Linked DNA regions of Homo sapiens: all the other regions are linked to region 2. The links come from fine-mapping of genetic effects on gene expression. A gene starts in region 2. Each other region holds a variant in brackets. All regions are shown on one strand. Distances are from middle to middle.

Region 1 (8,249 bases), 170 kb before region 2:
TCTGCAGTCCTGGCCCCCTCGTCATTTTCTTTCCCAGAAGCGCCCTGTATTTATTCCCCCATCTTCATCCCAACAGCCCAGCAAGAAGGAGGAGACAGAGAGCTCCTCCCTGGGTTGTCTGTGGACCCCCCCAGGAGCTGCTAATTGGCAGCACCCACTCAGCCATTCTCTACCCATCCTTAGTACATGCTCTGTCCAGCTTTCCCCAGGGTGACATACAGAAGGGGCAACATCTACCCGGGCACCAAACTGAGCCCAATTCCGAAGCAGTGTTTGGAAAAGCCCTTGCCCTCGGAAACTTGAACATGTCCTTTTTCCCCAGTCCCGGGTGCAGGAAGGGCCCCCTCCAGGTCACCACAATCTCACTCCTCCTCCAGAAAGAAAAGTTCACATAGTTTAGGTCCTGGCTTAACTCTACTTATGATGGTTCAACTTACACTTTTTCAACTTTAAGATGGTGCAAAAGCAATACACATTCAGTATGTTCCTCGACTTAGGATGCGGTTATGTCCGATAAACCCATTGTAAATTGAAACCACCGAAAGTCAAAAACCACTTTCGACTTACGATGTTTCCCACTCACGATGGGTTTCTCCGGATGTAGCCCCATCATAAGTTGAGGAGCACCTGTTAGTTACTTCCAACTGTCTCAGGCAACCTGGGCATTCAGGAGAAAAGCCTGGCACAGGGTGACAGGGAAGCACCCATGCAAAGCACCCCCGCTTTGACTGCTTGGCAGACCTAGGGTGCCCGGGAAGCACAAGGGATACCCTTGGCCCTGCGGGGTGTGGCCCAGGTGCCTGCCATGAGCCTGACCCCATCGAGGGGGAACCTCAGCCCACCCTGGGCCTGGGGGTGACAAGAACTTCCACAGGTTGGCCCCAGGCTTATAGGAGGCATAAGCAGATCCCGCGATGGCTTGTCATTGTCCCCTGTCCTGGAACAATAAAGCAAGTGCCTTGTGGTCTCACTACCAAGCTTTCATTTCTGGCCCCTCTCCCTAAGCAAAATGGCCAGGCCACACTGATGGCAGATGCCCTGGGCCTGTGACGTCCCTGTCACCCTCACCCAGAACTAGGAAGTTTCTAATCCAAAGAGTGAGGCATCTAGGAAAACTTCTTGACCCACTGGGGAGGCTGAGGAGCAGGTGAGCAGGGCCTCTTCCCAGGAGAACTTCCAAAGAGATGCAGGGAAGAGGCTGCCCTGGCCAGAGGAATGGAGGGGATGCCCTCCCCCAGACCCCTTGCCTCTGAGGTCTGCCCACTCCCTCTTTGCACCCCCATCTCCTCACACAAGAAGGAGTTGCTGCCCTGTCCAAACTGTGCCTTTCTGCTTCCAATCTGTCCCTGGCTGAAAGAGATGCCAAGTGGTTTGGGGCCCTGAGTTCCACAGGTGACAAAATGGAGCATGCCCTGGTGCTGTGTGCACTGCTGGTCCTGGAGAGTGGTCTCTGGATGGTCAGGGGCTCACTCAGTCCCACTTCAGACTCACCCCCTAGGTGTCACCTCCAGGTGGGGTTGGTGTCACCGCAGCACTGTCTCAAGAGAGATGGGGCAGATGTGGGAGCCAAAAGCACATACATGATCCCCAGGTCCCAGAGCAGCCACAAGTGGTGTCTCTGCTTAGAAAGCTCTTCTTGGATGAAGGCTGGGCACGGTGGCTCACGCCTGTAATCCCAGCACTTTGGGAGGCCCAGGCAGGCAGATTACCTGAGGTTGGGAGTTCAAGACCAGCCTGGCCAAAATGGTGAAACCTCATCTCTACTAAAAATACAAAAATTAGCTGGGCGTGGTGGTGGACGCCTGTAATCCCAGGTACTCAGGAGGGAGGCTGAGGCAGGAGAATCGCTTGAACCCGGGAGGCAGAGGTTGCAGTGAGCCGAGATTGGACCACTGCACACCAGCCTGGGCAACAGAGTGAGACTCTGTCTCAAAAAAAAGAAAAGAAAGCACTTCTTGGATGGCTAGGCACAGTGGCTCATGCCTGTAATCCCAGCACTTTGGGAGGCCGAGATGGGTGGATCACTTGATATCAGGAGTTCGAGACCAGCCTGAGCAACATGGTGAAACCCTGCCTCTGCTAAAAATACAAAAATTAGCTGAGTGTGCTGGTGGGCACCTTTAATCCCAGTTACTCAGGAGGCTGAGGCAGGAGAATCACTTGAACCTGGGAGGTGGAAGTTGCAGTGAGCTGAGATTGTGCCACTGCACTCCAGCCTGGGTGACAGAGTGAGACTCTGTCTCATAAAAAAAACAAAGCTCTTCTTGGGGCTGGGCCCAGGGGGCCAGCCAACACCTACCTCTGAGAGGATAGGTCTGCAAAAGACCCCATAATAGAACCCCACCTACCCCAGCACCCGCCCCAGCAGAGGCTGGAAGGCTAGATGCAGGGCTGGTGGGCTGAGGTAGGATAGGGAGTGGGGAAGGCATGGCCAGCGGGTGCACCCAAGAGGAAGGCCCACCTGCCCCAGCCTGGCCCTGGCTGTGTAGGAAGCAGGTGCAGGCTCTTTGCCAAGACCTCAGGCGATGTTGCACACCAGCTCTGTCCAACCCTGGGCCTGTGTCTTGATGACATCCAGGCCCCCAAACACAGGGCAAATGTTTCCTGGGAGAATCCTATTGGGACCCATTTGCTTGCCTCGGGTCCTGAGACTCTGAGAGCTCAGACAAACCTGCCTTATATACCCAGGCTAGGCCATCTCCTCCAGGAGACCCTCTGTCAAAACTCTGGCCAGTGGGCACATTCAGCACACCTGTGTGTGAACTGGCCCCTAATGCAAGAAGACAGGTAGCAAGCAGGTAGGACTTGGGTCTAGTTTTGTGTGTGTGTGTGTGTGTGTGTGTGTGTGTGTGAGAGAGAGAGAGAGAGAGAGAGAGAGAGAGAGTGTAACCAGGCCCTCAGACTTTTTTTAACTGGGCCTCAGTTCCACCCTGAAATGAGCCCCACACTCCCACTCATATGCTGCCCCCTGCTGGCCACCCCATACCAAGCATATAGCCATTATTAGAGTGAGCAACCATCTTTTTAATTTTATTTTTCTAAGTAAATATGGGGTCTCGCGATGTTACCCAGGCTAGTTTTGAACTCCTGAGCTCAAGTGATCCTCCCACTTCAGCCTCTGTTAGGTGCTGGGATTACAGGCGTGGGCCACCGCACCCACCTAATGTTTGTATTTTTTGTAGAGGTAGGGTCTCACTATGTTGCCCAGGCTGGTTTCAAATTCCTAGGCTCAAACAACGCCACCTCCTTGGCCTCCCTAAGTGCTAGGATTACAGGCATGAGCTACCACACCTGGCCAGGGTGAGCAACAATTTGTCTGAATGGATGCAGCGTCTTCAAGTCCGTTATTTGGAGGGAATTAATCCTTTTGCTCAGGGATTCTAAATGTGAGAGATCTCAAATGGATTAGAATTCCCAGGTCAGGAACTTGCATGAAAAAGTTACATCTTCATTTTCTCTCATCCTTACCTGAAATCTAGAATTTCCCTCTATTGTGAATGTCAGCAACAAATCACACTAGCATTGGCAATACCTGTGACTTTGTCAATAGAAATCACAGATATTTTGTAATTGTATTATAGATAGTACAAAATATGTACAAATATATACACATGCACACACATATACACACACATAAAGTAATTTGTCGCTTAACAACAGACATACGTTCTGAGAAATGTGTCCTTAGGCAATTTTGTCATTGTGCAAACATCATAGAGTTTACTCACACGAACCTAGATGGTAGAGCATACTGCACACCTAGAGGCTCTATGGGATAGCCTATTGCTACTAGGCTACAAACCTGTGTGGCATATTAGTGTGCTGAATTCTGTAGGCAATTGTAACACAATGCCTATGTGTGTTTCTACAACACATAGAAAAGGTACAGTAAAAAATACAGTATTGGCCGGGCACGGTGGATCACACCTGTAATCCCAACACTTTGGGAGGCCAAGGCGGGCACATCACTTGAGGTCAGGAGTTCAACACCAGCCTGGCCACCAAGGCGAAACCTCATCTTTACTAAAAATACAAAAAATTAGCCAGGCGTGGTAACACACGCCTGTAATCCCAGCTACTCAGAAGGCCAAGACAGGAGAATCTCTTGAACCCAGGAGGCAGAGGTTGCAGTGAGCCAAGATTGTGCCACTGCCCTCCGGCCTGAGAGACAGATCAAGACTCCGTCTTAAAAAACATATATATATATATATATATATATATATATATACAGTATTATAATCTTATGTGACTGTCGACATATATGTAGTCTGTCATGACAGACACATCGATATCTAGTGCATGATTGTAGATACACACACACACACACACAGTCATCTCACAGTGGTTCCAGGGCCTCCCACAAATTCCAAAATCCATGAATGTGCAAGTAAGTCCCTGATATAAAATGATGGAGTATTTGCATATAACCTACACACATCCTCCCGTATACTTTAAATCATCTCTAGATTACTTATAATACTTAATACAATGTAAATCCTTTGTCAATCATTGTTATACTGTACTATTTAAGGACTAATGACAAGACAAATGTCTGCACATATTCAGTACAGACATTTCTGATGCACAGTTGGCTGAATTCACAGATGCGGAACCTATGGCCAATTGTATATAGTTTTTAATACATAAAATAAATAGGATAGGCCTGGCAGGGTGGCTTACGCCTGTAATCCCAGCACTTTGGGAGGCCAAGGCAGGAGGATCATGAGGTCAAGAGATCAAGGCCATCCTGGCCAACATGGTGAAACCCCACCTCTACTAAAAATACAAAAATTAGCTGGGTGTGGTGGCATGCACCTGTAGTCCCAGTTACTCGGGAGGCTGAAGCAAGAGAATCGCTTGAACCTGGGAGGCGGAGGTTGCAGTGAGCCGAGATTGTGCCACTGTACTCCAGCCTGGCAACAGAGCGAGACTCTATCC[CAATA/C]AATAAATAAATAAATAAATAAATAAATAAATAAATAGGATAACAATATATTTTATGTTCCTAAAATCCTTTTTATTGTCCATAGGCTTTAGCAGACTGACAACAAGAGAGTCTGTGACACATAGAAAAGTAAAGCAAGGGGCTGGGCCTGTAATCCCAGTAGTTTGAGAGGCAAAGGCAGAAGGATTGCTTAAGCACAGGAGTTCGAGACCAGACTGGGCAACATGGCAAAACCCTATCTCTACAAAAAATTAGCTGGGTATGGTGGCACATGTAGCTTCTGTAGTCTCAGCTACTTGGGAGACGAGGTAGGAGGATTGCTTAGGCCCAGGAGTTTGAGGCTGCAGTGAGCCATGATTGTGCCACTGGACTCTGGCCTGGACAACAGAGCGAGACCCTGACTCAAAAAAAAAAAAAAGGGTAATGTCCTTGCTTTAGTTGCCAGATGGTGGGGAAGTGGAGGGTGACTCTTAGGGGAGGGGCCAGGCTAGGGCGGCCTGGGACAGCAGCTTTTTAACAGCTGGAAGGGAAGATCTTAGTATTTTAACCACTGGTTTGGCAGTCCCAGTGAGCACCTTGCCGGCCAGCCCAGGAGGGCACGAGCTGTGGGTTTCCCTGTGGTACTTGGGCTTTCCTTCTCTACCCAGGGGCAGGATCCTCATGACACCCCTAAAGAGTCAAAGCAGGCCAGGCACGGTGGCTCAGGCCTGTAATCCCAGCACTTTGGGAGGCCGAGGCGGGCAAATCACCTAGGTCAGGGGTTCAAGACCAGCCTGGCCGACATGGTGAAACCCCGTCTCTACAACAATACAAAAATCAGCCGGGCATGATGGCTGGTGCCTGTAATGGGTCCAGCTACTTGGGAGGCTGGGGCAGAAGAATCACTTGAACCCGGGAGGCAGAGGTTGCAGTGAGCCGAGATCATGCCATTGCACTGCACCCTGGAGATCATGCCATTGCACTTCACCCTGGGCGACAGAGCGTGACTCCTTCTCAAAAAAAAAAAAAAAAAAAAAAGAGTCAAAGCAAAAATGACTGGCCCATTTCAGAGACAAAAGGGAATTGCCCCTTCAAGGTCAACAGCTCATCAACATCAGAGCCAAGACTAGCCCCACCTCCACCCTGTCTTCCTCCCAGGCAGCCTCTAGGTTCCTAGGGACAGTGCCAGGAACTAAATGCAGCAAGATGTACCATTTGCAATAGGACTAGTGCCAGAGGCATGAAGACTTAAAAGAAGGCATGGGGCCAAGGCTTTTCCCAACCTAGGCTCCTCCAAGCCCAAGGAACGCAGGCCTCTTTTCAAGGTGAGTGCCAACTGGGTGCCTACTTCAGAGATGAGAACCTCAGAATAGGGACCCTCCTCTCTCTCTGAAGATGGAAGTGCAGCAGGCCCAATCTAGAACCTCAACCCAGTTTTACTTAGCAGCTGCAGTGAGTAGAACTATTATCAGGGTATTGGGAAAAGGTCCTCTTCCTTGCTATACCTTCTCTGCAGACTTGTAACCCCATAAACTACAACAGCAAAATCACCCCTATACTGGCCTTTCTTTCATACCTGTACAGCCTCATCTGCAAACAAATCCCTCCCTTCCACATTCTTGTCCTCATTCTCCTTCTTTACCTTTGTGGCAACTGATAGTTCCTGCCCACTTGCTTTGTGATGAAATTCTTTCCTCCAAAACATGGCTCTGCTCCCACCTCCCTGGAGGCTCACTCCTCCTGTCTCCATTGTTTCCTTTCCTTCCGCCCTGCTCTCAAACACTGGCCTTCCCTAAGGTGATACATTCTCGTTCAGGCACCCTCAATTAGGGGATGGGGATTTGTATTATAATAGCATTGTTTGGGAGAATCCCAGTAATTGCAGGACATTTGGCATTCCTAAATAACAAGAGTGTCAGTGGAGGACCCCATGATCTCAGCCACCATCATAGCTTCAGAAATCACCTTGTGGCCGATGGCCTCGACAATCACCACCTCCAGCCCTTATTCCCCTCCTGGTCTTAGGGCCCACCTTTCCTGTCTTCTGGTAATTTCCTCCATGCCACAGCATGTCCCAGTCTGAAGTCACCCTCTCCTGCTGGCATCCACCTTGATCCAACCTGCATTCCCAAACCCAGTGATGGCACCTGTAGCTACCCCAGCACCCAGGCCACAAACCAGGCAGTCAGCCTCACCTCCTCCCTCTCTCCAACCCACTCATCCAATCAGCCACCACTCCTGAGGATCTCACCTCTTAAAAATATCAGTTTCACCTGTTTCTCTCCATCTTTGAGGATACTGACCTAATTCAGTTTCTCTTTCTCTCTCACCAGATTCCTGCAGCACCCTCCTCATCCTCACTGCCCCCCTGCCTTTAGTATGGTAGTGCATGGAGCCGGACTGCCTGGATTCAAGTCCTGGCTCTGCCACTTCATAGCTGTGCAACGTTGGCTGGGTACATTAACCTCTCTGGACCTACATTTTCTGTAAAATGGGCATCATAATAGTGCCTTCCTCAGAAATGACCATGTTTATGAGTTAACACATGTAGAGCACCCAGCCTGGCACTCAGTAAATCTTGGCTATTAGTGTCATTCTTTCCAATCCACCATTCACTCAGCAGCCAGAGATAATCTGACCAGGTCATGCCCACTTAATCCTCCACAGGGGCTCCCCACTTCTCAGAAGCCCTGCTCCTAAGGCTCTGCCAATCTGTCTTCTTTTCACATCATATTGACTCTTGAACACACCTAGGCTTATGCCCATAATCCTGGCACTTTGGGAGGCCAAGGCAGGAAAATCCCTTGAGCCCAGGAGTTTGAGAGGGAGACCCCATCTCAAATAAATAAGTAAACAAACAAACAAACACCTGACAAATCTTGCCTCTGAGCCTTTGTTTATGCTGTTCCCTGTGCCTAAGCACTCTTCCCCATCAATTTCCATCACAAGCACCTGCTCCAGTGCTACCTCCTCTAAAAATCCTCCCCAGAACCCTCCACACAGAACGACTCTGATTCTTGCTCTCCGTGTCCCCAGTCCTTTTTTTTTCCCTAGGGACGAGTATGTGTTCCTTGTGTCTCACTCATTTCAGAATTCCCAGAATTCAGTGCAGATCCTAGCTCCACCCCACTTCCCCCAGCAAGGGCTTCACAGAATCAAGCTGAATGCCAGCACTTCTGGGCCTCCTAGGGCCAGAGCTCCTCAGCCCAGAGGGTGCGTCAGCTCTGGGCATATCTGAAGGAGGGCCTGAAACTGTAGGGTGTGCTCTCTGCCCACCTCAGTTCCTGAATTTCCTCCATTAAGCAGCCCCCTCCTCTGAGTCTGGGGT
Region 2 (8,249 bases):
GCCCAGTGCTGCGAGGGAACAGAAATGGAAAAAACAATCACAGGAGAGTGTGAAAAGAAGTTATGGCCATATCGACGACATTCCATGCACCACACCCCTCCATTTCTCTTGGCACCAGCTTCCAAAGCCAGGATGAAGAGGAGGAGAAAGGATGGGGTCCACACCTTGTTTTCTCCACCATCATCCAGGGGCTCTGCTGCTGCTACTATTGCTCTGCCTGATCCCCACCTTCACTTTCCTCCAGACCCAAGTCCGGAGTGGGTAGGGCTGCTGCCCAGACCCTCCTTCCCGTGGTAGCTCTAGAGAGTCTAGGAACTGCGAGGGAGGGGAAGCCAGGAGAAGGGAAGTGTGCAGAAAAACCAACCATCCTGGTGAGAATGGAACCAGGAATGGAACAGACAGAGCACTTGGCAACTGGGAGCCAGAATCTGCCTTCTAACTTGGACACCCCCTTAGCCTCCCAGGATGACACGAGGCCATAAGTCCTCCTTTGTTGACCCAGATGTCTGAGGTGCTTCCAGCTACTCTGGAACTCTGGGTTAGATGTCAACAGGGAGCCAGGGTCTTGGTCACCTTTCTTTCTTATAAAAGTTAATGGCATAAACAACCAAAAAAACAAACAAAAAAAAAAAAGAAAGAAAAGTTAATGGTTATAACTCCTGAGTTCAAGCAATTCTCCTGCCTCATCCTCCCAAGTAGCTGGAGTTACAGGCATGCACCACCACGCCCGGCTAATTTTTGTATTTTATTTTATTTATTTTTTTTTATGAGACAGAGTCTCGCTCTGTCACCCAGGCTGGAGTGCAGTGGTGCCATCTCGGCTCACTGCAAGCTCCGCCTGCCAGGTTCAGGCCATTCTCCTGCCTCAGCCTCCCAAGTAGCTGGGACTACAGGCACCAGCCACCACGCCTGGCTAATTTTTTGCATTTTTAGTTTCACCATGTTAGCCAGGATGGTCTCTATCTCCTGACCTCGTGATCCGCCCGCCTCAGCCTCCCAAAGTGCTGGGATTACAGGCATGAGCCACCGCGCCCGGCCTAATTTTTGGATTTTAATGGTGACGCGGGTTTCACCATGTTGGCCAGGCTGGTCTCGAACTCCTGAATCCAAGTGATCTGCCTGCCTTGGCCTCCCAAAGTGCTGAGATTACAGGCACGAGCCACCGCACCCTGCCTGGAAAAGTACTTCTTAAAGGGAAGGCAAGAAAAGGGTGAAAAAAAGAAAAAGATTCTCCAGTGGTGAAAATTTGGGTATAAGCACCAAGTAGGAGGACACGTGTGGGGAAAGGATCAGGGGAAAGGGCTCTCAAAGCCAGCCATTCAGACTTCACCCAGTGAGGGCCCAGTGCAGCCCCCAAACTGATGTTTCAGCTCCCAGCCTACCTGAACCTGCCCAGGGGCCAGGGATGGCCAGCACAGCATCCCCAGGGGACTCTAGTGCCAAAATGGCCACACAGTCATGCCCATTCCACATCCATCATCCCCAACAAAGAACTCCAGCCCCAAAGTGCTCGTAACAAAGAAATTTTAATGCATAAGGCACAGTGAGAGGCTGGAATCATTAAGCATCCTCAAACACAAAGGGCCCAGCAGGCTGAGCAAAAGAACAGAGACACTCTCCCTCACTACCACTGGGCGCCCTGGACAGTCCCCTGAGGAGTAGGGGGCATCCAGTCTTTGGCACGGTGCCTGGGGGCAGGAAGTGACTAGCATGATCCCAGCTACCCCTCTGTGGGAATACTGCCACCAAGAGGCAGCTCTTTGGTCTGGATAAAGTCAGTGCAAATGTCCAGGGGTCAAGCTCTGGAGGAATGAGGGTGGCACAGTGCCCTAGGGCTGGGCAGTCTCTGAACAGTCTCCTCAGCCCTCATGGGCAACATGTGGGCTTCTTCTTGCTGGCAGTTAGGTAGAGGTTGCTGTCATCACTGTTGATGCCTAAAGAAGGGTGGAAAATATGTGAAGCAGGGATTGGAGGCTCACTGTGCCCTCTGCCACCCTCAACCAGGCAAGCACTCACGGACAACATCCCCAATGCGTCGAGCCCCCGATTTCTCCAGCTCAGCCAGCACATTGGCCTCAAAGGTCAGTGCTGCCACACGGAAGAAGAATTCTCGGACATTCTCACCTGACACAGAGAGCAGATAGGTGCTCAGGGGCAGTGCTGGGTCTGGGGACACAGGGCACAGCTGGAGGTGTAGCAGTGAGAGGAGAGCCAGGCAAGAGTGTCACAGCAGAGCCCTAAAGCCTCCAACTCACCAGTGAGAGATGAGACTGCCCAGTACTCAGCCTTCATCTCCTGGGCCACCTGGAGGGCGTCTTTCTCCATCAGCGCATACTGAGCAGGGGTCTGAGGGAAGGCCAGAGTCAGAGGGGGGCATTCCCTCACCAAGCTGGGAAGTCCCCCCACTGGCACACTCACACTCAGATCCTTCTTGGAACCTACAAGGAAGAGAAGCACACTGGAAGGGTCATTCTCCTTCAGGGCATCGGCCAGCCACTGCCTGCCATGGGAGGTGGAAAGTAAGGGATGAGTGAGTCTGCAGGGCCCCTCCCACTGACATTCATAGGCCCAATTACCCCCTCTCTGGTCCTACATGCATTCTTCTTCTTCCTGACCACCCCTCTGTTCTGAACCCTCTCTTCCCGGAGCCTCCCATTATATTGCAGGATGCTCACTTACTTGGTATGTTCCAGAGATGCCACATCATTCAGGTTGAAGACAATGATGATGGCTGGAAGAGTGGCAGAAACAGCCCCAGGTTGACAGGGAAGACACTACTGCTCATTTCCCCAATCCTTCCAGCTCCATATGAGAAGCCATGTGCACTCTGAGACCCACCTACCCCACTTCACCCAGCCCCTTACCTTGAGCTCCTCTATAGTAGGTTGATGCAATGCATTTGAACCTCTCCTGCCCAGCGGTATCCCAACTGGAAGGAAGGAAGAGTGAAGCACAGGTATGTATCTTGGGGGGTGTGGGTGCTGGGGAGAAGGGATAGCTGGAAGGGGTGTGGAAGCACTCACAGCTGCAAACTGAAGGGAATGCCCAGCACCTCAAATCGTTCCATCTCGAAGTCCACTCCAATGGTGGCCTTGTAATTCTTATCAAAGGTGTCTTTGCAGAACCTGAGAGGGTACCAGATGCTGTGATCTGGAGCCAGCCCACCTGGCTAGGCTTGGCCCCACCCTGCCCAGCTCAGCTCCAGCACCCCCTTACCTATTAATGAGGCAAGTCTTCCCCACCGACAGGTCCCCCACCACAATGACCTTGGAGATCTTAAATCTGCTGGACACAAGAGTGGGCAAGGGGAGTGGGCACGAGCTCTTTCACCCTAGGGAGTTCCAATGCTCCCGACTAGGTCCAGAAAGGTAGCTGCACCCAGGCTGAGGGTATTATAGACACCAGGCATCCCAGGCAGCTGCGTGGACAGGTGTGCTGGGGAGGAGGAGTGTTTTGTGCTCCAGAAGCAGAGAGACATGAATTTGAATCCCAGCTCTCACACTGATTAGCTGTGTGACTTTGGACACGTTATTTAGCCTCTCTAAGCCTCAGTTTAAACATTTAAGTAAAGTTAGTATATATTTTACTGGGTCGTTGTGAAGGTTAAAATGAGATAAATGTCCTATATTCTAAGACACCCTCCCCCCCGCATTTTAATGTCTGAAATCAGGATATATCTTAAGTGATGGACTTTTCCATTCAATAAAGATGATAGTACCCAACACTGCCTGGCACACAGCAAATGCTTAATTAATGGTGCCAACTGTTATCAGTATTACCTTTAAAACCCACAATAAGACTCATCCCTGTAAGCACAGCCAGACCCCTGCCCTGGGGCTCCATGGATGCTATGTGGGGATCTGAGCAGGTGACCACCTTCCCATTTCAGACACCTTAGTCTCTACTCAGAAATCCAGCTGCCACCCTTCTACCCAACCCCATCTCATAGAACTCACAACAACCTTGTTGGGAGAAAAGGAGGGGATACAGGGGCTTAAAGAGGGGGAAATAACCATATAGCTGGTAGGGGCTGAAATGAAGCCCCAAGGGGGTGGTTGTTTACCCTCGCTATGACTACAGAGTTTCCTGGGACCTCCTCTCTTTGTTGTGGGTGTCCCTAACTCACCCCACGGTGCCTGTCCGGTGCTCCTGGCAGGCGCAGGTGACGCGGGGGTGGAAGTCTTTGTGCCCGTGCAAAGCGGCCTCCTTCCTCAGGCACTTAGTGGGAAGGATGGAAGAGAATGGAGCTTCCTACTCCTGGCCCTTGTCCCGCAGCCAAGCGGCCCGGGTAGGGGTGGAGTGCAGGGACCACCCAGAAGCACCAGGCCTAGCTGGGTGGCAGGGCTGGGCCCAGTCCTCTAACTGGTCTGGTGCCGCCTCCTCCTCGCCCACACCCCGGGCTGTAGACTGAAGCCCGACGTGGCCCCGGCGCCTACCTGGGGCAGCTCCGCCAGGACGCGATCCCTCCGCACGGGTGCCAGAATGTTCATCCTGCCTGCGGCCTTGCAGGGCGCCCTGAGAAGGCGCCGAGGCCGGATCCGCGTCAGCGACCCGGGCGCGTGGAGACCCGACGATCACCCGCGGCCGGGGTGTCCCGACTACAACTCGGGGCCACGGGGACCCTACGGGAGTCCGCGGTCTCGGAGACGCTACGACCACCGCGGGCCACGGAGATGAAACAATCACCCGGGGCCGCGGCGAGCCCAAAATCACCCGGGCCCTGGGCGTCCCGAAGATGACTCTGGGGCGAGGAGACTCTTCGGCCGCCAATTGGGGGCGGGGAGTCCCGTCTGGTGGGGGCCGGGCCCGCGCAGACCCTACGATTACGCGGGGCCGGATAGTTCCTACGATTACGCGGGGCCGGATGGTTCCTACAATAACCCGGGGCCGCGGAGACCCGACGTCATCTCGGGGCTGAGGCTGCCCTACCATTACAGAGCGGCCCGGGGGCGCGGAGCGGCCCCGCCACACGGGGTCAGTGTGGGCAGGGGCGGCGCTGCCAAGGCCCGCAGGCCGCTGGAGGAGGGGGCGAGGGGCCCAGTCCGGCTACAGGGCCTCGAGTCCCACTCCGCTCGGGCTCCGCCAACGCTGTAACACGATCCCCGGAAATTCCTGGAGAAGGGCCGCCCCCCGCCCCTCTCCTGGCGGCTCCAGGCCTCGCTGCCCGCCCTCGCCACCCCCTCCTCTCCACCCTTCTGCGTTGCCCCGCTCAGGCTCCCTCTTTTGACGCTTCACCGGGCACCAGGACCGCCCCGACCCAGGCTGGAGCCTATCCAGATAGGGACTCCCCAGGCTGCTCTCCCCTGCACCTCTATACCCGGCTGCGCCTTCATGGGGACCCTTACCCAGCCGAATTGGTGATGGGGAATCGGAGACTGCTGCGCAGCATCTGGCGATGCCAGGAACCAGCAGGGAGGGGAAAGGGGGAGAGAAGGGGCCCAAGGAGAGGCGGCGCTTCCCTCCTCAACTCCAGGCCTGGGAGGTGACTCATAGAGTCTGCCCCCTCTCGCCCTTCTGCCCTGGGAGGTCGGGGGTGAGGATGGTGGAGGGGAAGCGTGCGAAGGGGGTGCCAGGGTTAGAATGAGGTGCCCACCGAGGAGAGAGACGTCTGAAGTCTGGCGTCTTTTCCTTCAAGGCTGCTGTGTAGATTGTGAGGTGGGAGGGCTGAAGATCAAGTTCCCTCGAGGGAGGTTAAAGAAGGGCTAAGTGGACCCGGAAACTCTGCTCTTCGGGGTGGTCTCCGCTCTGGGAGGCGGGGACTCCCCTCTGGTATGGGTGTTCATTGTTCTGGCCCCATTGGAATCTATCCCCCAGGGACAACTCCTTTGTGCAAAGTCCTGCAGGATAGAAGAGGGGGCAGTGCACAATCAATTTCACCGTCAAAGGGGACATGTCTGGTTTTATGAAGGGAGAGGGAAGAAGAAAGGATCAAGTGGGGATGGGTTAGGCACACACCTTAGGAGAAGCGAACCTGAGTGTTAAGAAACCTTTCTCTGTGTCTGGAGCTGAATTTGAGGATGTAAAGATGACCAGGACACGGAAGGGAAGACTAGTTTAGGGCAGGGGATTGTGAGTGAAGTTACTAACCGGAAAAACTAGCGAATCTTGGAGAAATGTGTGGAATTTTCATAGAACTTCAAATGCATTATCAGGAAACGCAGTAAAACTTGACAGTATCAGTGTCGCAGGTAAAGAGGGGCAGGTGTGGCCGCCTTGTACTTCCTCTGACACTTCCCCCTCGTGACTCGATTATTTATTTATTTATTTATTTATTTATTTTGAGACAGGGTCTCACTCTGCCACCCAGGCTGGAATGGCTCATTGCAGCCTCGACCTCCAGGGCTGAAGCGATCCTCCCACCTCAGCCTCCCAAGGAACTGGGACTACAGGCACGCACCACCACGCCCGGCTAATTTTTGTATTCTTTTGTAGAGACAGGGTTTCGCCGTGTTGCCCAGGGTGGTCTCGAACTCCTGGGCTCGAAGCAATTCGTCCACCTCGGCCTCACAAAGTGCTGGGATTACAGGCGTGAGTCACCGCGCCCGGCCCTGACTTGATTTTTTTCTGCCACCAAATCACTGTGTTATTGATAAACCACATTCCTCTCTGGACCTCAGTTCGACCGAGCAAATCCTGCTCCAGCACTCTAGAACTTAGCTGTATCTAACTCCCGAGTCAATCCAAATGTGTTCTTTCCTCTTGGCAGCGTTCCTGCCTCCTGGCATGGCAATCCTCTTCCCTGAGACTGGCAGTTGCTCAAGATAGGAAGCTCCCGGGACCAGACCCGAGCGCCAGCCGGCTACGCCGTCCGCTGGCCTGAGCAAATAAACGCGTGTCTTCAAAAAACTACAATCCCCATGGTGGCACGCGCCTGTAGTCCCAGCTACTCTGGTGGCTGAGGCAGGAGAATGGCGTAAACCCGGGAGGCGGAGCTTACAGTGAGCCGAGATCGCGCCACTGCACTCCAGCCTGGGCGACAGAGCGCTCAAAAAAAAAACAAAAAACAAAAAACAAAAAACTACAACCCCCATGAAGCTTTAGTGCCTTTGAGGGGAGGAGTGGCGCATGTTTGTTCACGCACGAAAAAGAAATTAAACCTAACTACCGTTCCCAGAGGGCGCCGCTCTGCAAATTACCCAATCAGCTCTAAGTACAAAGCATCGCGAGTCTTTAGTGCTCTTTGGCGCTATAAGCCCGTGGGAACGAGCATTGGAGACCCTTTTCACAAGATGGCGCCGAAAGCGAAGAAGGAAGGTGTGTGTTGGTGATGGGGCCGCAGCTGGTTTACCGGGGATTGCCGCGCCGCAGAGCGAACGAATTGGGAACACGGCTGCTGGGCTAAGCCCTGAGGGCTCTGCTCCGGGGCTGCTCCCTGCGTTTCGGACACGCTGCAGTATACGTGGGCCGCGTGGGCCCAGCCTCGTGGGCTGAGTTCCGGTAGAGGGAGTTGGGGGGGGGCAACGCGGCAGGCATCATCCGCCAGGGAGGGCCAGACATTCGGTTCTGGGAAGCTACATGCATCCACTGGTTGGAGCTCCATGTCCCCGGGCCTGTAAGGAATTAGTGCCCTCAGCTTTAACCATTTTCCTTCTGGTTCATGTTCAACCGGGCTACATTACCCGCCCCTCTCTCCGCAGCGTGGTTTTGCGATGGGGTATGTGTAAAATTCGTAGGACATTTTCTGGAAAGTATCAAGCGTTCATTCAGTGCTACTTTGTTTCATAGTCGTATCCCTGGAGTTACTTAGAGTTGGTCGCTTTCGCCTCTGGTATCGTGCATATGATGGAAAAGTTTTAATCTCCTGACACTTGTGATGTCTTCAAAGGAACCACTGATGCACCTGTGGCCAGGGTGGCCCACTGCAGTTCTTGGGGCCGGAAGTGACCGATTTCTAAATCCCGCACCCACGTTTTCTTTCCTTTTCTCCCAGCTCCTGCCCCTCCTAAAGCTGAAGCCAAAGCGAAGGCTTTAAAGGCCAAGAAGGCAGTGTTGAAAGGTGTCCACAGCCACAAAAAGAAGAAGATCCGCACGTCACCCACCTTCCGGCGGCCGAAGACACTGCGACTCCGGAGACAGCCCAAATATCCTCGGAAGAGCGCTCCCAGGAGAAACAAGTCAGTACTGCCCCCTGTACCCATGAAAAGATTTGGGTATTCTCCATTGGTAATTTGGAAATTCACTCACTCTGCGTGATGGTTTCTCAAACGCAAATTGTGTCCAGTGTGCTTCTCTAATTGGAAGTATGAGGA
Region 3 (8,249 bases), 51 kb before region 2:
TGACAGGGAGCCGGAAATGACGTAGCACGTTGACGCAGCAGCGGCGGCGGTGGCGGCGGAGGGGCCGTGCGGTGGGTCCGTACTATCTTTTCCCAGTCTCGGTTCGACGACTCCATTTTCCTCGGTGGGGGCTTAGCGCACTGGAGGAGCGGCGGGCTTCAGACAGGTAAAGTTCCGACTGGAGAGCGTGTTTCTCGCAGGAGTCAGGTGGGGAACCGGGCTCCTAGGGCCTGGTCACGTAAGGGAAGAGGCAGTGGGGAGCCGTATGCGGGAAGAAGGGGGAGCCTGGCCTTCCCTGCTCTATGGGGGGAAGGGGGAGGAAAGCGCTGTAGTTGCTCAGAGTCCGAAAGCTTTTCCCAGCCCAGTGACACCCGGAACCCGTGAATCGGGTGGCACGTTGAATCAACAGGCTTCCTGGCATCCCGTCCTTCTCTCCGCAGGTTTTTAAAACTGGGCCACGCAAAAGGATTGGGGATGGAAGGGACCTGGGGCTTCTGAGCCAGGATCAGGTGATCGAGTTGTTTGTTCTGGGGATATGAATCCTGTGGAGCTTTCAGCAGCTCGGCCATCAGGCTAGAGGGCGATGCCAAATTCCAGCTCTTTACATATTGCTGAATAATACAAATAGAACTTTTTGTAGATGGTTGCATCCTTCATCCCTTTCTAAAGATCGAAGGTCTTGTAGAAGTCCTAAAGCCCGTCCATTCTCTATAGATTCATTTCCTCAAACGTTTGCCAGAGGCCTATCATGAACATCAAAATTAGTTATTAAGTCAAAACTCCATCTTCTAGTTTCTACCTTTCTCCTCAGGCACTCCTTTGAACCAGCTGGAGAAGTTAATTTTCCTGGGTTGTTGCAAGAACTGATACTTATTTCAGAGGGCTAAGATCTCTGAAAATACTTCCGTGGAAATTCACTGTAATATCAAAAGTAACAAGGGTGTATGAAGCTACATCATTAATGAGCATTAGGGAGTGTAAACAATATTGAATTTGATTAATTTCTTCGGAAAAATGTCTGGTTCCACTGTTTATCTGGAAGTTACCAGTTTGTAAGTCTTCAGTGTTTTGATTACAGAAACATAACTGCTCTTCCATCAGCTGTGAATTTAGAGCCCTTTTTTACGAGTAATGTCCCTTTCACCAGTACAAGTACATTTTTATTCACTTGGCTTGTGTGGCTGCTAGATTGGATTAGCATAGCCTTGCAACTCTAGGAGGTTTTAACTTCATCAGGAGATTAATTACATCAGAAAGTGGTACCGTCTGGAGAGGCTTAGTCAAATTTTACAGTTCTTCCTCTGAAAGCCTACCTAGTGTGGTGGAAACATGATCTTTGTAGGCAAATACGTTTGCCCTGATTCTATATTCTTGACCTTAATAAATGGCACTACCATCAGTCCTGCCTGTAATCCTTGTCTTCCTTCCTGTCCACTATTTCCCAATAAAATCAGTCACCAAATCCTGTCTCTCCCTGAAACTGTTCCCATCAGCATACAAATTATGTTCTGGTATCCTTCACATCCCTCTCCAATTACCATGCCAATTTTTTAAATTTCCATTCATAGATTTCTACCTGTACCAACTCAGCTTTCTCAACTTTCATTCACTCTTCATTTTATACCAATCTGGCTTCTCTTCTGCCCACTCCATTTTTTTTTTTTTTTTTGTGGAGACAGGGTCTTGCTCTGTTGCCCAGGTTGGAGTGCAGTGGCCCCATCATAGCTCACTGCCACCTGGAACTCCTGAGCTCAAGCAGTCCTCCTGAGGCAGCTTCTAGTAATCAAGTGCCACCACATCTACTTTGCCCACTCCATTGAAGTTGCTCTTATCAAGGTCACCAGTGACTTCTATGTTGCCAAATCCAATGGATACTTTGTTCTCATATTCCTCTGTCTCTGCAATATTCAACATAGTTACTCCTGCCTCCAAACTTTCATCTTGGCTTTATTGACATTTCACTCTTGGATTTTCTCCATTTCTCCGGCTGTTCCTTCTGAGTCTCATTTGCTAGCAACTTTTGCTCTCTATCTAATGTCTAAATGCTGGGGCTGGTCGCAGTGGCTCATGCCTATAATCCCAGCACTTTGGGAGGTCGAGGTGGGCAGATCACTTGAGGTCAGGAGTTCACAACCAGCCTGGCCAGCATGGTGAAACCCCATCTCTACTAAAAATACAAAAACTAGCCGGGCGTGGCGACACGCCTGTAATCCCAGCTACTTGGGAGGCTGAGGCAGGAGAATCACTTGAACCAGGGAGGCAGAGGTGCAGTGAGCAGAGATCATGCCACTGCACTCCAGCATGGGCAACAGAACAAAACTCCGTCTCAAAATATATGTATATCTACATATGTTGGAATTCTCACAGGAATCCCGAGCCTTCTACATGCTTCCCTTTAGGTAACCCAGCCCCATGGCTTTAATTACCACCTGAAAGTTGGCAACTCCAAAGTTTAAATCTCTAGTCCAGCCCTCTCCTCTATGTTGCAGAATCACGCGTCAAAAATGCCTGTTTAATTATCTCCATTTGGATATTTCTTAGGCACCCAAAGCTAACATAACCAAAAGAAAGTTTTGGTTTTCTCATCATTGCAAACCTTATCCTCCCGTTTCACTGAGTGGTGCTCCTATCCGCAGGGTTACCAAAGATAGACCTCTGAGAATCATCTTTGTTCTTCTCCTTTACTACTCCTCTTCCCCAGTCTTTCAGTAAGTCTTGTCACTTCCACTTGCAGAATGTTTTTGTAATCTGTCTTCTATTCTCCATCTTCACTTTTACCACCTTATTCCAAGCCACCACCATCTTTTGCCTGGGCTACCACAACAGTATCTTCAGTTTTCCCTGGTTTCCACTCAGATCTTCCTCCAGTTCATTTTCCATGTAACAGAATTGGATCAGGGCAGATCATGTCATTTCCCTACTTAAAACTCTCCAGTGACTTTCCATGGCCTTTACGCCCTGCTTGAGCATACCTCTCCCTCATAGGCTGCTGCCTTCACCATGCTCTAGTGCCATCAGCCTCAGGACATCACCTATTATATACCATGTTCTTGCCCACTTTCTCTACTGGAACCTCTCCTCCTACTTCTACAGGTCATATCCTACCTATTGACATCTCAGCCTAAGTAAACTCACTTTAGATGAGATGAGAATATGCATTTCCTTCTTCGCTTTTAGAGCAAGGTTTATTTTATTTGTTGCCAATATGTCTCCTGCACCAGAATACGGGCATCCTAGGGGCATGGACCTAGTCTTGTACGTGCCTGGCATGTGGTAGGCACTCATTAAATACATATTTATGCCAGGCATGGTGGTTCACGCCTATAATCCCAACACTTTGGGAGGCTGAGGCAGGCGGATCACCTGAGGTCAGGAGCTCGAGCCCAGGCTGGCCAACATGGTGAAACCCCGTCTCTGTTAAAGATACAAAGAAAAAATTAGCTGGACGTGGTGGTGGGTGCCTGTAATCCCAGCTACTTGGGAGGCTGAGGCAGGAGAATTGCTTGAACCTGGGAGGCGGAGGTTGCAGTGAGCTGAGATCGTGCCACTACACTCCAAGCCTGGGCAATGGAGCGAGACTCTGTCTCAAAAAAACGTATATGTATATGTATATGTATTTGTCCTAGCTACCTGGGAGGCTGAGGTGAGATTATGGCTTGAGCCCAGGAGGTGGAGGCTGCAGTGAGATGTAATCACACCACTGCACTCCAGTCTGGGTGACAGAGCAGGACCCCATCTCAGAAAATAATAAGTTTTTGTTGGATTAGCAAGTAGATTAAGTTCAGTTCTACATTTAAAACCCTGCAATGGCTTCCCAGTGCCTAGATCCTTATGACTTCTCCAACCCTTATGAACCATTCTTCCTCTCCTGGGCCTTCTCTGTACCTGCCACAGTACACGTGTTGTGCTAGAAGCACACGTCTCTGACATCACTCCCCAAACCATCTCCAAAGAAGCCAGCTCCTCTGCTGAACTAATTCCTCCTTACTCTTAAGGTCTTTGTTTAAAGTCACTTCCTCAAAACCAGGTTAGGTTGTCTTATTACAGGATCCCATGCTATTCTTATCATCAATTCTCTAAATCAGGGGTCACAAACTAAGGCCTGTGAGCCAAATAAGGTCACCCCCATTCATTTACATGTTATGTATGCTGTGCTACAGTGGCAGATTTGGCCCTATAGAGAAAAGGAAAGGTTTGCCAACCCCTGTGCTAGAGCAGGAACTATGCGCTCCTCA[A/G]TGTGTGTACCACAAGGTTCAGTAACTGTTAATCTCTCTTTGTGTTGCAGGGGTTCTGAATCTGGTTACATATTTCAGTTGTACTCTTCTTTAGCCCTTACCCTGTTTCTCTAAAGAAATGTGGAAAGAAAAGGAATACTTTTTTTTTTTTTTTTTTTGAGACGGAGTCTCGCTCTGTCACCTTGGCTGGAGTGCAATGGCATGATCTCGACTCACTGCAAGCTCTGACTCCCACGTTCAAGCGATTCTCCTGCCTCAGCCTCCTGAGTAGCTGGGATTACAGGCGTGCACCACCACACCCGGCTAATTTTTGTATTTTTAGTGGAGACAGGGTTTCATCATGCTGGCCAGGCTGGTCTCGAGCGTCTGACCTGACCTGAAGTGATCAGCCTGCCTCAGCCTCCCAAAGTGCTGGCATTATAGGCGTGAGCCACCGCGCCCAGCCGAATAAATAATATTTTTAAATGAACAAAATTAACTTTTTCTGTATTTTAACATCTTGACTTCATGTAATTAGGTTTTCAGGGTTTTTTTAATTACAAAGCCTTCTGAATTCCAGATTTAAAAGGACTTAAGTAGACTCTAAATACTTTTATCTATTAAACTTTTAGGTTTTGAAATTCCAAATTGGATATTCACTTATGGATACCTTTGGAATAGTCCTAGTCCCTTGCCCATAAAATATAGGATACAAGTGTAATCCCAGCACTATGAGAGGCTGAGACGGGCGGATCACAAGGTCAGGAGATTGAGACTATCCTGGCTAACACGGTGAAACCCCGTCTCTACTAAAAATACAAAAAAAAAAAAATAGCTGGGCGTGGTGGTGGGCACCTGTAGTCCCAGCTGCTTGGGAGGTTGAGGCAGGAGAATGGCGTGACCCCAGGAGGCGGAGCTTGCAGTGAGCCCAGATCATGCCACTGCACTCCAGCCTGGGTAACTGAGCAAGACTCCGTCTCAAAAAAAAAAAAAAAAAAAAAAAAGTGTGTGTGTGTATATATATATATATATATATATATATATATGTATGTGTGTGTGTATACATATGTATGTATATGTGTATATATGTGTGTGTATATATGTATATGTGTATATATATATAAATACGTGTGTGTGTGTGTGTTTTATATATATATATGTATATATGATACAAGACAACATGGAATGTCTTGTAGCTTAAACTCCACCCTAGACTTCTGGGGCTGTTCTCCAGAGCACCACGCCTAAATGTTTGCTCATGTTGCCTTTTTCCAGACTGTTTTCTTAAATCCTCTTTTATTCAGGCATCACCTTTTCTCAGATATTCCCCAACCTTCCCATTGCTCTCATAGTCCAGTTATATAACTTAACATAACCCTATTGTGCTTTGTCATAACGTTATTAACAAGTTTTTTGAGATAGATTGTGAACTCCACCAAGACTGTGAACTCCACCGGGGTAGGAAGCATATTTTACTCATTTTTATATACACAAGTCCCAGCACAGAGCTTGACTCTAAAAAAAAAAAACCCAGCAAATGTTAATTGAAGCTGCAAAGTGGAAGGAATTAACAGACTAGATCTCTTTTCACTCTGGTCTCCTCTTAATTGCCTACTACAACTTCTTGTTCAAAGGGAGGGACTGCAGAGGGCCTCCCTTGTGGCAATCTGATCCCAGTTCCATTCCTCTTCCAGCGAATGTCATGGTAACCACCAGCCTCTCCCATTGAGCCACATCTTGTTCTGCAGCTGTGCTTCTGACTAGAGAAACCTCTCCCTCCATCTCCCCACTGCCCTTCTAGACCTATTCCAGTTGCAAATTTAACTTACAGTGTGAGTATGGGGAAAATTTTAAGAGCATAAGTGCTAAATACAACATCCAAACTACATCAGGCTCATCATAGATACCATGTATTAATAATAATCATACACAAATAAATACATTAGTGTCTTTATTCTAGAGTAGTTCCCGCTTGTCAGTCTCAGACTGCAGTGCTACTGCAGTCTGCACATCTAGCTCCTGCAAGTTGCAGCAAGTCAGAATTGCTTCTGGCACACCTCTTATAACTGGAAGTCTTGGTATTGAGCTAGATTGGAGGCATTCCCCAGCTATAGCATAGTGTGTGCTTTATTGCTAACCTAGGCGATGGGAAGAAAGAGAACACAGCTATCTTTCCAAGCTGTGTGCAGCATGGAGCACCAGCTGCCCTTGAGACAGAAGAAAGCTGTTGTTTTCATCAGGTAGGCTGTGTGTTTCTCTGTTAAGTAGGCTGAGGGGCATCTGGTCTGCAGGAGCTGGCATTTAATTTGAAGATGTTGAGGCCTTAAAAGATTGAACTTGTGGGTCTGATAGCCTAATTAGAACAAGCTATGTGTGGGGGCTGCCGTACTCAAATCTGTTTTTAATGGCTCAGTTCAGGGCTGAGGGGGAGCAATGTCAAAATTAAAATTAGAGCTCTAGATTTAATTGGCAGAAGTTTAAGACTTTCACTTTTGGCAGTGCTCAAGCTAAATGACCTTAAGGATAGAGATCTTGGGGTCATGGGGGAGCATCACCCTAACCCCTAGGCTTACTATACCGCATCTCTTTAGGGTCTTTACAGTCACTCCTCAACTTTTTGGACTCAGGACCCCTTTATACTCTTAAAACTTATTTAGGACTTCAAAGACATTTTGTTTATGTGAGTTATATCCTTTGATATTTACCAGATTCGAAATTAAAACTCAGTGAGACATTTAAAAATATTTATTGATTTATTTTAAAGTAGTAAACAATAATACTTTTTATGAATAACAGTAGTTTTTTGGGTTTTTTTGTTTGTTTGTTTGTTTTGAGACGGAGTCTCACTGTCGGTGCAGTAGCACCATCTTGGCTCACTGCAACCTCTGCCTTCCAGGTTCAAGCAATTCTCCTGCTTCAGCCTCCTGAATAGCTGGGACTACAGGCGCCTGCCACCATACCCAGCTAATTTTTCATTTTTAGTGGAGGCAGAGTTTCACCATGTTGGCCAGGCTGGTCTCAAACTGCTGACCTCAGGTGATCGGCCTGCCTCGGCCTGGGGTTACAGGCATGAGCCACAGCACTCGGCCGAATAATAATAGTTTTTAAAACAAAACATTTTAGTAAGAATGGACTGGGTGTGGTGGCTCACTCCTGTAATCCCAGAACTTTGGAAGGTCGAGGCAGGTGGATCACTTGAGCTCAGGAGTTCGAAACCAGCCTGGCTAACATGGTGAAACTTTGTCTTAAAAAATAAATGAATAGCCGGGCGTGGTGGCTCACGCCTGTAGTCCCAGCACTTTGGGAGGCCAAGGCAGGTGGATCACTTGAGGTCAGGAGTTCGAGACCAGCCTGGCCAATATGGCCAAACCCCATCTCTACTAAAAAAAACAAAAATTAGCTAGACGTGGTGGCGAGCGCCTGTAGTCCCACCTACTCGGGAGGCTGAGGCAAGAGAATCGCTTGAACCCAGGAGGCGGAGGTTGCAGCGAGCCAGGATCGTGCCATTGCACTTCATCCTGGGTGAGAGAGTAAGACTCTGTCTCAAAATAAGTAAATTAAGTAAGAATGACATTCTTTGTTTTTTAGTACAATGTTTTAATGTCTGCTCTAACAGAATACAGCTGTGTTCTCATATGTTTTTGCATTCAGTCTGTTGTGATAACCACATGTCCTATAACCTCTGGAAAACTCCACTCTATGCTCCTGAGAGAACAGAGGGACTGGCCCCTGGACCACGCCCTGAAAACTATTGATAGATGTGGTACTGTCAACCATGAAGAGTCAGACAGACCTCAGCACTTACAGATGATAGTTTTGTCACCTTGAACAAATGACTACATCTCTCTGAGTCTGTTTCCTCCTCTGTTGAGAGAGAAGTGTGCTGTAACTCATAGGACAGTGTAGGGATTAATAGAATACTTGTTCTCCTTGATAGGGACATAAAATAGTAGGGTATTTGTTAGTGTCTGGCACTTGGTAGGTGTGTAATAAGCATTATTCCTCAGGGTACTTTTTAAAAAATTGCTTAAAATA

What was found.
Region 1: its variant is fine-mapped to the expression of RAB34 in whole blood (INTERVAL, PIP above 0.99).
Region 3: its variant is fine-mapped to the expression of RAB34 in whole blood (TOPMed, PIP above 0.99).

What each region holds. Positions count from the first base shown.
Region 1 is chr17:28,537,928-28,546,176 of GRCh38, forward strand. FOXN1 (forkhead box N1) reads left to right here. Exons shown (of 9, transcript NM_001369369.1): 9 at 1-973. Among named protein-coding and RNA genes, the nearest start is that of UNC119, 11 kb to the right of the region's middle. The variant CAATA/C (reference allele first, on the strand shown) is at 4,939.
Region 2 is chr17:28,712,777-28,721,025 of GRCh38, forward strand. It overlaps RAB34 (RAB34, member RAS oncogene family), which reads right to left and starts at 5,092. Exons shown (of 10, transcript NM_031934.6): 1 at 4,437-5,092; 2 at 4,127-4,218; 3 at 3,217-3,282; 4 at 3,024-3,125; 5 at 2,865-2,929; 6 at 2,680-2,731; 7 at 2,419-2,500; 8 at 2,256-2,346; 9 at 2,017-2,124; 10 at 1,508-1,934. The coding sequence starts at 4,490. The coding sequence ends at 1,867. RPL23A (ribosomal protein L23a) reads left to right here and starts at 7,209. Exons shown (of 5, transcript NM_000984.6): 1 at 7,209-7,254; 2 at 7,931-8,114. The coding sequence starts at 7,230. It overlaps SNORD42B (small nucleolar RNA, C/D box 42B), which reads left to right and starts at 7,774; the gene lies at 7,774-7,840. RefSeq lists a silencer at 4,925-5,184 and enhancers at 5,865-6,465, 6,466-7,067, 6,724-6,773, 7,204-7,423, 7,764-7,923.
Region 3 is chr17:28,662,177-28,670,425 of GRCh38, forward strand. SUPT6H (SPT6 homolog, histone chaperone and transcription elongation factor) reads left to right here and starts at 29. Exons shown (of 37, transcript NM_003170.5): 1 at 29-166. It also overlaps a transcript of SDF2 not described here. RefSeq lists enhancers at 1-616, 1-47, 145-819. The variant A/G (reference allele first, on the strand shown) is at 4,236.